Linked DNA regions of Homo sapiens: region 1 is linked to region 2. Evidence: fine-mapped expression QTL. A gene starts in region 2. The other region holds a variant in brackets. All regions are shown on one strand. Distances are from middle to middle.

Region 1 (5,378 bases), 130 kb before region 2:
TGACTGGGTGTTGTGGCTTACAACTGTAATCCTAATGATTTGGGAGGCCTAGATGGGAGAATCCCTTGAGGCGGGGAGTTCAAGACCAGCCTGGGTAACATAGTGAGACCCTGTCTCTACAAAAAATTAAAAAATTAGCCAGCCATGGTGACATGTGCCTGTAGTCCCAGCTACTCTGGAGGCTGAGGTGGGAGAATTATTGCCTGAGCCCAGGAGGTCAAGGCTGCAGTGAGCCAAGGTCACACCACTGTGCCCCAGCCTGGGCAACATAGCCAGACCATGTCTCTTAAAAAAAAAAAAAAAAAAGGCCGGCGCAGTGCCTCAGCCTGTAATCCCAGCACTTTGGGAGGCTGAGGCGGGCGGATCAGGAGGTCAAGAGATTGAGACCCTCCTGACTAACCAACATGGTGAAACCCCGTCTCTACTAAAAATACAAAAATTAGCTGGGTGTAGTGGCACATGCCTGTAGTTCCAGCTACTCGGGTGGCTGAGGCAAGAGAATTGCTTGAACCTGGGAGGCAGAGGTTGCAGTGAGCCAAGATCGAGCCACTGCACTCCAGCCACTGCACTCCAGAGCGAAACTCAGTCTCAAAAAAAAAAAAAACTAGATTCAGGCCACTACATCTGCAAGACATCAGCATTTGAGAAATCGCTTGTCTCCATGGCCTGGCACTGGTTTTCATCCTGGTATTAGAAATGCATCAGTGCTCCCTGGGGAAGGGGCCAGTTTCACCAGCACCTGCCCCATGAGCTGTGAAAATGTGCATTCTAAGAAGGAGCCAGACAGGGCCCGAGACCCTCCGTGACCCATGGCCCGTGATAAAGGTGTTGGAACAATCGTGCCAATATGGCCACAGGAAGCATGATTGTTCTCTCCTTGCGCATTGCAGGGGCTGGAGGTTGAAGGTGTGACCTGTGCTGTTGTCCCAGGAGCCGGGGCTTTCTCAGAAGCCCTTTTCTTGTGATGCCCAAACAACCACGCAGAAAATGCTAATTGGTTACCCTCCAAAACAACAGTGAAAAATGATGCTTTAGGCTTCAATAGCCCCATCACAGCTTTCATCTCACCAAGAAACCCTAGGCCAAGCTTGTGCAACCCTCAGCCTGCAGGTCGTATGTGACCCAGAACGGCTTTGAATGTGGCCCAACACTTTCTTAAAATAAAACATTATGAGATGTTTTGTGGTTTTTTTTTGTTTTTTTTGTTTTGTTTTTTAGCTCATCAGCTATCATTAGTATTAGTGCATTTTACGTGTGGCCCAAAACAATTCTTCTTCCAATGTGGCCCAGAGAAACCCTGCCTGGGCTTTTCCGATTTAGCCCTCCCACATTTCCCAGAGCAGGACAGTCCCTCACACCAGTCTCAAAGGCCAGCAGGGCTTTTCCTCACAGACTGAAAGCTATGGTCACTAAAGTGTTCAGAAGTGATGATAACATAATCAAGACTCTTCCTTAGGGCTTGAGGGTTCCAGCAAACATCTCTGCCATCTGTCTGCCTGCTTTTTCTGTCACTTCTGAAATTCTGGTATCATGCCCGTGGTCAAAGCAACTAACTTCTGTGGCTACTAGAACTTTCTTCCTGCTTTTCTCACTCTGCACTTCCTGCTGCTGTCAATGAAACTCAGCTTCTTATTCCCAGGCACTCTCAGAGTGAGGATCCATAGGAGGCTTTGATTCTCAGGACAGATAACCCCATCTTTCCTCTGGTTCTGACCTATTTTTCTGTGTCCTTGTTACTGTGGTCATACCCAGAGAAGTAACATTTTGTCTTGAATTTGTAAAAATCTCTACCTTTCCCCACAAAGGGATTTCAGCACAGTGGCTATTTTAACAGATACCATGCAGCACGTACCACACGTTCCCTTCCTGAGTCCTTGAAAGTAATTTTCAGCTTTTGATCGGCTATATTGTTCTTCCCAGCTACATTTTGGGAAGTCCAGCAGAATAACTTGCTACTCTTTTAAAGGTCCTAATGATAAAACGAAACAAAACATCCCCTTTTTATCATCACCCACAAAGCCCTAATGCGTGCAACAAAGATTGTGAAACGTCCAGGGAACAGTTTGTGAGACAGAAAGGATGGCTTTGTTGATTAGCAAAAAGCTGGAACGTGGACACTGGCAACACAACAGGATTGGGACCCGCCTTCTTCAAGTGAAACAAAGTTGGAATTATTTTCAATTTTAATGTTAAACGGTTTTTTTGTTTGTTTCCAAATTATTTGAAAAGTTACTAATCCAAGCGTGGTATGAGTGGTATCATTTTGGTAACTAGATTAATGCACTACCAGATCCTAGAATTTCCCACTTTACCAAATAAAAGTATGTTCTGTGGAATTCTCCTAGACCAAGACAGGCTTTTCCCCTGAGCAATAGTGATAAAGTTGTCTAAATACATGAACTGGTGGCATTTTTCAAAAAGTAATAATGTTATAATCAAGAGGTGGTGTTGCTATGTTGCCCAGGCTGGTCTTGAACTCCCAGTCTCAAGTGATCTGCCAGGAGGCTGAGATGGGAGGATCATCTGAGTCTGGGAGGCCAAGGCTACAGAGAGCTGAGATTGCATTGCTGCACTCAAGCCTGGGTGACAGAGTGAAACCTTGTCTCAAAAACAAAACAAAACAAAACAAAACAAAACACTGCCACCATGCCTGCCTAATATTTTTATTTTTATTTTTGTAGAGATTGAAGGGGGTCTCACTATGCTGTCCAGGCTGATCTCAAACTCCTGAACTCAAGTGATTCTCCTGCCTTAGCCTCCTAAAATGCTGGGATTACAGGCGTCTTTAAGTGCTGGGGGTCGGCATATTTAAAATGAACAC[A/G]CTGCCTATAATCCCAGCACTTTGGGAGGCCAAGGCAGGTGGATCTCCTGAGGTCAGGAGTTCGAGACCAACCTGGCCAACATGGCGAAACCCTCTCTCTACTAAAAATACAAAAATTAGCCGGGCATGGTGGTGGGTGCCTATAGTCCCAGCTGTTTGGGAGGCTGAGGCAAGAGAATCGCTTGAGCCCAGGAGGCAGAGGTTGCATTGAGCCATATCGTGCCACTGCACTCCAACCTGGATGACAAAAGGGAGGCTCCGTCTGAAAAAACAAATAATTAATTAATAAAAATAAAATGAACACACTGTTTTAGTTTAACAGACTAAAGAGGTGCAACCGTATGGAATAAATGAGCCTGGACTTAGTCTTGTGTTTTAAAAAAGTTATAAAAGATGTATGGGAGCCGGGCGCAGTGGCTCATGCCTGTAATCCCAGCACTTTGGGAGACCGAGGGGGGCGGATCACAAGGTCAGGAGTTCAAGACCAGCCTGGTCAACATAGTGAAACCCTGTCTCTACTAAACATACAAAAATTTGCCAGGCATGGTGGCACATGTCTGTAGTCCCAGCTACTCGGGAGGCTGAGGCAGGAGAACCGCTTGAACCCGAGAGGTGAAGGTTGCAGTCAGCCGAGATCTCGCCACTGCACTCCAGCTTGGGCAACAAAGTGAGACTTCGTCTCAAAAAAAAAAAAAAAAAAAAAAAAAAGATGTATAGGACAACTGGGGAAAATTAAATATGGACTGGATATTAAGCAATATTAGGGAAGTATTTAGAATATTAGGGAATTATTTAGAATTATTTAGAATTGAAAGGTATTACTGTGTGCAGCTAACTTTCAAATGGTTTGGGGCTGGACGCGGTGTCTCACGCTTGTGATTCCAGCACTTTGGAAGGCCAAGGCAGGCAGATCACCTGAGGTCAGGACTCTGAGACCAGCCTGGCCATCATGGCATAACGCCATCCCTATTAAAAATACAAAAAATTAGCTGGGCATGGCGGCGGACGCCTGTAATCCCGGCTACTTGGGAGGCTAAGGCAGGAGAATCACTTGAACCTGGGAGGCAGAGGTTACAGTGAGCCGAAATCGCACTATTGCACTCCAGCCTGGGTGACAGAGCGAGACTCTATCTCAAAAAAAAAAAAAAACAAGAAAGAAAGAAAAATAAAAATAAAAAGGCCAAGTGCAATGGTTCACGCCTGTAATCCCAGCACTTTGGGAGGCTGAGTCAGGTGGATCACTGGAGGTCAGGAGTTCGAGACCAGCCTGACCAACATGGCGAATCTCCATCTCTACTAAAAACACAAAATTAGCCGGGTGTGGTGGCATGCACCCATAATCCCAGCTACTTGGGAGGCTAAGGCAGGAGAATCACTTGAACCTGGGAGGCAGAGGTTGCATGCAGTGAGCTGAGATTATGCCACTGCATTCCAGCCTGGGTGACAGAGCAAGACTCCATATTAAAAAAAAAAAAAAAAAAAGAAAGAAAAAGAAAAAGAAAAAAAGAAAAAATTATTAATGACTTGAAATCCTACCACTGTACAGTTAGCACTACACACACACACGTAATTCTACCAAAGTGGATCATAATATTTATGCTATTATAATGATTTTTCACAGCTATCTATTTTAATGTTATTTTGTTTTCTTTCCTCCTTCCACCTGGTAACCAGCTTCTGCATCCTGGTTTATGTTGTGAAAGGAAAATATCTTCAGCCCCTTCAAGCTGGTAACTGCTCAGGGCAAATCTGTCTCATTCTATTCGAAGTCATCCCTCTGCTCACTGAAATTAATGCATATTCTGATTGCCTCCTTTGGAAAGGCTTATCAGAAACCAAAAGAATGCAACCATTTCTCTCTCACCTGCCTGTGACCTGGAAGCCCCCTCCCAGCTTCAAGAGTTGTCCCTGTCTTTCTGCATGAAACTAGTGTACTTCTTACATATATTGACTGATGTCTCATGTCTCCCTAAAATGTATAAAACCAAGCTGTGTCCCAATCACCTTGGGCACATGTCATTAGGACTTCCTGAGGCTGTGTCATGGGCGCACTTCCTTAGCTTTGGCAAATAAACCTAAAATGATTGAGACTTGTCTTATCATTTTTCTCGATTGGCAATGTCCTTCCATGCCTTTTTCTGATAAGTTGCTGACATGTATTGAACATTTACTACAAAGCAAGGACCAGGACTTTACATACACACTATATTTTACAAAAACCCCATACTGTTATTATCTCCATGGTGTTGACAAACAGAGAAGCTAAGGAAATTTCTCAAGGGCACACAACCAACACATATGTGAACTGTTTTTGGTTGGGTTGTATTTTATATATATATATATATATATATATATATATATATATTTTTAATGTACTTTAACTTCTAGGGTACATGTACACAATGTGCAGGTTTGTTACATATGTATACATGTGCCATGTTGGTGTGCTGCACCCATTAACTTGTCATTTACATTAGGTATATCTCCTAATGCTCTCCCTCTCCCATCCCCCGGTTGGGTTGTATTTATTTATTTATTTATTTTGAGATGGAGTTTC
Region 2 (5,378 bases):
GACTCTGGAGACAGATGCTGGTAGCAGAGAGAAATCTTTAACCAAAAATAATAGATAGGGACATGCAAGAGGAGAGGTGTATCTGACATTCCTACTACAGAGTCCCAGGAGGCTGTGAGGGTGGATGGTGAGGGGCTGGGAGAGGTTTCTAATGGAACACAAAGGCCCTGTGTCAATCTCTGACAGGACATGCTAGGTATCACAGCTGCTCTGAGGGTGTGGAAACGGGAAGCTGGGCCCAGATAGTGCAGGCCTTAAAAAGGTTAATAAGCAAACACTGGCTAGGTCCCCAAATGGGGTTGGGTTTCTCTGACCAATTATGTAGGACCCCATGGAGGCGCTGAAGGTAGATGCTGAGAAGAGGGTTTTCTACTGCAGTAGAAAACAAGAGGGCCATGGCCAGGCGCGGTGGCTCACGCCTGCAATCCCAGCACTTTGGGAGGCCGAGGCAGGTGGATCACCTGAGGTCAGGAGTTCGAGACCAGCCTGGGCAATATGGTGAAACCCCATCTCTACTAAAAATACAAAAAATTAGCCAGGCGTGGTGGTGCATGCCTGTAATCCCAGCTACTCGGGAGGCTGAGGCAGGAGAATCGCTTGAACCCAGGAGGTGGAGGTTGCAGTGAGCTGAGATGGCGCCACTGCACTCCAGCCTGGACGACATAGTGAAACAATTCTGTCTCGGAAAAAAGAAAAAGAAAAAGAAAACAAGAAGGCCTGTGGGGGGAAGGGACATCTGACAATGATCCTGGGGTCCAAGGAGGCTGAAAGCAGAAGCTGAAAACCCCTGACTGCAGACGTTAGGGACCTTGAAACGATCTGAGGGCAGATTCTGAGGCCTGATGTGAGGATAAGGGATCTGTGAAAAAAGCAGCTAGAACCCAGGTTGGTTTTTGAAGGCAGAGGCTGGGTCTAGGGTGGGGTTGGGGAGGCGAGTCTCTGATGGAAGGGGCTAGAAGCCAACGGGATCTGCAAGAGCAGATGCTCGCAGGGGCTCTTTGATGGAGGATTATGTATCCAAACAGTTCCTCCCTGGTATCTGGTGCACTGGAAGGCTCTGGGGGTTCAAGGTGCCTGATGGGGAAGATGCTGAGGCCTCTCAGTAGTCTCTGAATACTGGAAGTATAAAAAGCGAGAAATTCCATAAAAGTAGAGAAAGTGTCAAAGGACAGAGTCTAGGAATTGAAGAGTCTCTCAAGGCAGATGGTAAGAGGGGTCTCTGAGTAGAAATACTGGGCAGAGTCTCTGATGGAAGATGCTAGGGCCAGGGTGGGGTTAGGAGACCTGACGTGTGGCGAAGAGGGGCCCCCGACACAAAGGCCAGGCCCAAATGGCCTTTCACAGGGTCTAGTACCCCTGGAAGCTCTGAGCGCGGCTAGCATGTGTGTGGGATGGGGGTCTGAAGGAAAATGCTAAAGAGGACTCTCTTACAGAGATAAAGGGCCTATGGACCCCTTCGAGATCTAGCCCGTCCTGGAAGCCTTGAGGACAAATACTGAGAAGCTAGGAAGTGTCTCAAAGGAGATTCTGGGGCAGGTCTTTAACGGCATTCAATGGTGAGGAGCTCTGATCAGCAATGCTGATCCACGTAAATCTCTATTGGAGACTGGGGAAGAGTTCTGATCTGAGATACAAGGTTCGGGACGGAGTCAGGTCCCAGACTAGAGATGTTGGGCGTGAGTCTCTAAAAGCACATCCTGGGGGTCCGACTCCAAGGTCAGATTTTGCAACCAGAGGGAGCCGGAGTGGTCCTGGCCGGGGAAAGTCGGCCCCGCCCCAGGATCCGCTCCCCCTCCCTACTCCGCTGATTCCTGGCTCCCGAGTCACCGCGGCCCGCCCCGACAGCAGCGTGGCTCAGGGCCCTCCAGTGCCTCCCCGAAACCCCTGCCCAGGGCGAGGCGCAGTGAAAGGACGTTTTTTTACCAATGCCGGTTCCCCGGGTCGCGCCGCCGCCAACTCCTCAAGGAGCCGAAGCCAAGCCCGGCCGCCACCCTCCTCCTTCTCCTCCTCCCCGCCGCCTGGGCCGCCTAGAATCGCCGCTGCCGCCTTCTCCTCCCCCGGCCGTTGTGGTTGTGGTTGTCCCTGCCACCTCCTTACAGCCGAGCCGCCGACACAAGATGGCGGACGCTGAGCCTGGGGCCGGAACAAAACCTTGGGCCCCACCCCCAGAAACCCGGATGCAAGCGGGCCGCGCCTACTTATGAATCATGCATAAAGTTCCCTACTCGGTTGCGATTCATTCGGTTAGAAGTGGAACAGCACCACCTGGTGGACATTGTGGCAGTAACAACGAAAACAGGTAAAACAGAGGCCACGCCTCATGGAATGCGACTAATGAATGAATTGTTGCAGCCAGGCTGTCAAGGAAGCGAAGAAAAACCGTTAAGGCCATGCTTCCTGATTATAAGTTATGCATGAAGTTGAGTGGTTGGTAGACTAACAACCAGCAACCAGAAAGCAGATGTTAAAACATGGAAGCCACACACCCCCATTCATGAATAATGATGATCTTGCAGGGGCCCGGAAGCCAAGGAGACCCAGGCCACAACTTACTCATGAATAATGCATGAGGCCCAGTGGGTTGGAATAAAAGGGGCACGCCCGCCTATTGCTGCATCTAATACACTGTAAGCAGGGAAATGGGGCTGCTGCAGGGAAAACACACTCTCCCAGGTCCTGAATAATGAATTATGCTGCTGCAGTAGCTCAACCTGGAAACTCAGAGAGGTCAAGAAAGGTTCCACCCAATTTATGAATTATGCATAAGGCGAAGAAACACCCAAGACTGCCCTGCCCAGCAAATAGGGATTACGATGCTATAGCCAAGGCAAAGTGAGCACGCCTTCCTGTTCATGAATAATGAAAGATGTCACTGCAGTGCCACCAGAAAACCCAGGGGACGTGTACTCCCTGCCCCCACCTCCCCTCTCCACGCCTCCCTCCATTCTCCCCGCCTCAGGAACAAGGGCTGCCTTGGTCCAATCAAACCCAAACTCACTACATGTCTTTGGCAGGTGCCTCAGTTTCCACAACTGTAAAATGAGGATAGTAATGTGTTATTATGAAAATCAGATGACGCCTGTAATCCCAGCACTTTAGGAGGCCGAGGCGGGTGGATCACCTGAGGTCAGGAATTGGAGACCAGCCTGGCCAAGATGGTGAAACCCTGTCTCTACTAAAAATACAAAAATTAGCTGGGCATGTTGGCGGGCGCCTGTAATCCCAGCTACTGGGGAGGCTGAGGCAGGAGAATCGCTTGAACTCGGGAAGCAGAGGTTGCAGTCAGCCGAGATCGCGCCATTGCACTCCAGCTTGGGCGACAAGAGAGAAACTCCGTCTCAAACAAAAGAAAATCAGAGAATATAAATTATGGGATGAGCCTTAGAACATTGCTGGCACAAGGCACTGTTAAATTTTTAAAATATTATATATTAATATAAAAGTAATATGTTAAGATATGTAAATATATATTTACATTAATATAAAATTAGTTATGAATACTCAGCCACTAGAGAAACCCCCAACTTGGGCCACTGCTTCCCCATCCATAAAATAGGAATAACAGCAACTTACCTTGCGATGGAGTTTAAATGAAGAAATAAGTAGAAAGGGCTTAGACCAGTGCCTGGCACATGCTAAGTGTTATATTAGTAGTAGTAGTACTATCAAATGGCGGCGCAGGGGAATGGGGAGGGGAGACATTATGGCATCTGGTTAAGACTACAGATTGCGGAACTAGACCCCAATTTGAATCCCGGCCCAGCCACTCACTGATTGTGTGACCTTAGGCAAATTACTTAGCCTTCCTGTGTCCCAGTTTCCTTATCTATAAAGTGGGGGTAATAATGACCTACCTCCTAGGATTGTCGTGAAGATTAAATGCGCTAAGTAGCTAAACGAGTGTAAGCTAATCTTATCGTTATCCTCATACCCATTATTCAGGCTTACAAAACGATTTGCCAAAGATCACACAACTGGAAAGGATCGATGGGATTTGAATCCAGAGCCGGCTGATTATCTGGGATTACCAGGCCATAAGAAATGAACAATGTAGGAGGCCTCATCCCTTTGCTAGACGCCAGGTTTTAACTCTGGTACCTGCAAGGGAAAGCTAACCGCGGATCACGCAGACAAAGCTGCAAAAGCCACGCTCCTCATGAATTAAGCACGGAACCCCTAGAAAAGCCACTGAAAACTCAGGGTGCTACTTAACTTTTGCGAATCATCAATGAACTCGTTTGCGCGGCAGACTTCAGAACGCCCCTTCAGCACGTCCCTTCGGCACGCTGATCCGCCCCTCGTGAATAATTCACAAGCCGAGAACCTTCAGCGGACCAGGTGCGAAAGAGGCAAAAAAACTGCCGCCTACCACAGCCCCACCTTATTATGAATAATGAATAAAGGCCGGGTGGCGCCTCGTCAGCTCAGGAAGAGCTGGGCTCCGGTGTCCCTTCCCTAGCCTGAGCTGGGAGGCTCCTCTCCCTAGAAACATCTGGGCCCCCGACGTGTCCAGTCTCGCAGTCCTGAGCCTCCAGGCGCGGGGAGGACCTCATCACAAAACCAGAGGTCACAAAGGCCTGACACCTCCACAATGCCACGTCGGTCCCGATTGTTCTGTCACCAGGACCCCGTCCTGAAACAAGCCCTCCCCCAGTCCCGCCTTGACTTTAGTAACCTCAAGCTTTGCTTCTCCCCTTGAAGAATAACCCAAATCCTGCTCCACGGACAAGGGTGCCCATACACGGACCCTAAGAATCTCCCCAAAGCCCCCCAAACCCTGCCTCCGAGGGGTGCTCCCCGAAACAGACTCCCAAATCCCACCCCGAAGTCCCCAAACGGCACCCCTTAAGGGTCTCAAAAGCAGACGCCCCCTAAATATCACCCCGGGCCCGGAGGCTCCAAATACGCCCATGAGGGGTTTCCCCGAAGTTGGGATTAGGGAAGCACCCTCCTCCAAATGCTGTCCAGAGGCTTGGGGGCACGGTGCTCCAGCTCACCCCCTGTGCCGGGCGGAAGCCTCGCCTTCCTGCCAAAGATGAGCTGAAGCCACGGGGCAACGGAAGAGCAAACCACCTCTGTCGTACAAGAGAAGCCAGAGTTTGCGCGGAGCTCGGAAGCGCGGGGCCTTGGAGAGCCCCGGGTCTGGGATGTACCACAGATGCTTTGCTAGAGGGGCGTCAGTCCCTGCTCCCGCGTCGCTGGTGCCCGTTTCAGACCCAGATGACCCTACAGGTTGTGGTACGGCCCAAATGCGCGCGGCATGCTGGGGGTGGTAGTTCTGTCTGGCCAGTGCCTGGTGCACGTGGTGGGCACCAGCGTCCAGAATATGGGAAAATGTAAGCCTGAGCTGTGGAATTGCCGGAGCCGTGCTCTGTAGG

Which allele goes with the higher level. Alleles are on the strand shown, and positions count from the first base shown. SD is a standard deviation of normalised expression in the study named.
In carriers of allele A in region 1, the expression in tibial nerve of the gene that starts at base 2,119 in region 2 tends to be higher than with G alone (small effect, 0.24 SD a copy in GTEx).

The links. PIP is the estimated chance that this variant, and not a neighbour inherited with it, causes the effect.
Region 1: its variant is fine-mapped to the expression of UBA1 in tibial nerve (GTEx, PIP above 0.99).

The regions. Positions count from the first base shown.
Region 1 is chrX:47,323,801-47,329,178 of GRCh38, reverse strand. No RefSeq gene overlaps it. Among named protein-coding and RNA genes, the nearest start is that of ZNF157, 44 kb to the left of the region's middle. The variant A/G (reference allele first, on the strand shown) is at 2,822.
Region 2 is chrX:47,190,570-47,195,947 of GRCh38, reverse strand. UBA1 (ubiquitin like modifier activating enzyme 1) reads right to left here and starts at 2,119. Exons shown (of 26, transcript NM_003334.4): 1 at 1,924-2,119. RefSeq lists silencers at 1,847-1,996, 2,091-2,279 and enhancers at 2,037-2,216, 4,414-4,954, 4,935-4,984, 5,015-5,064.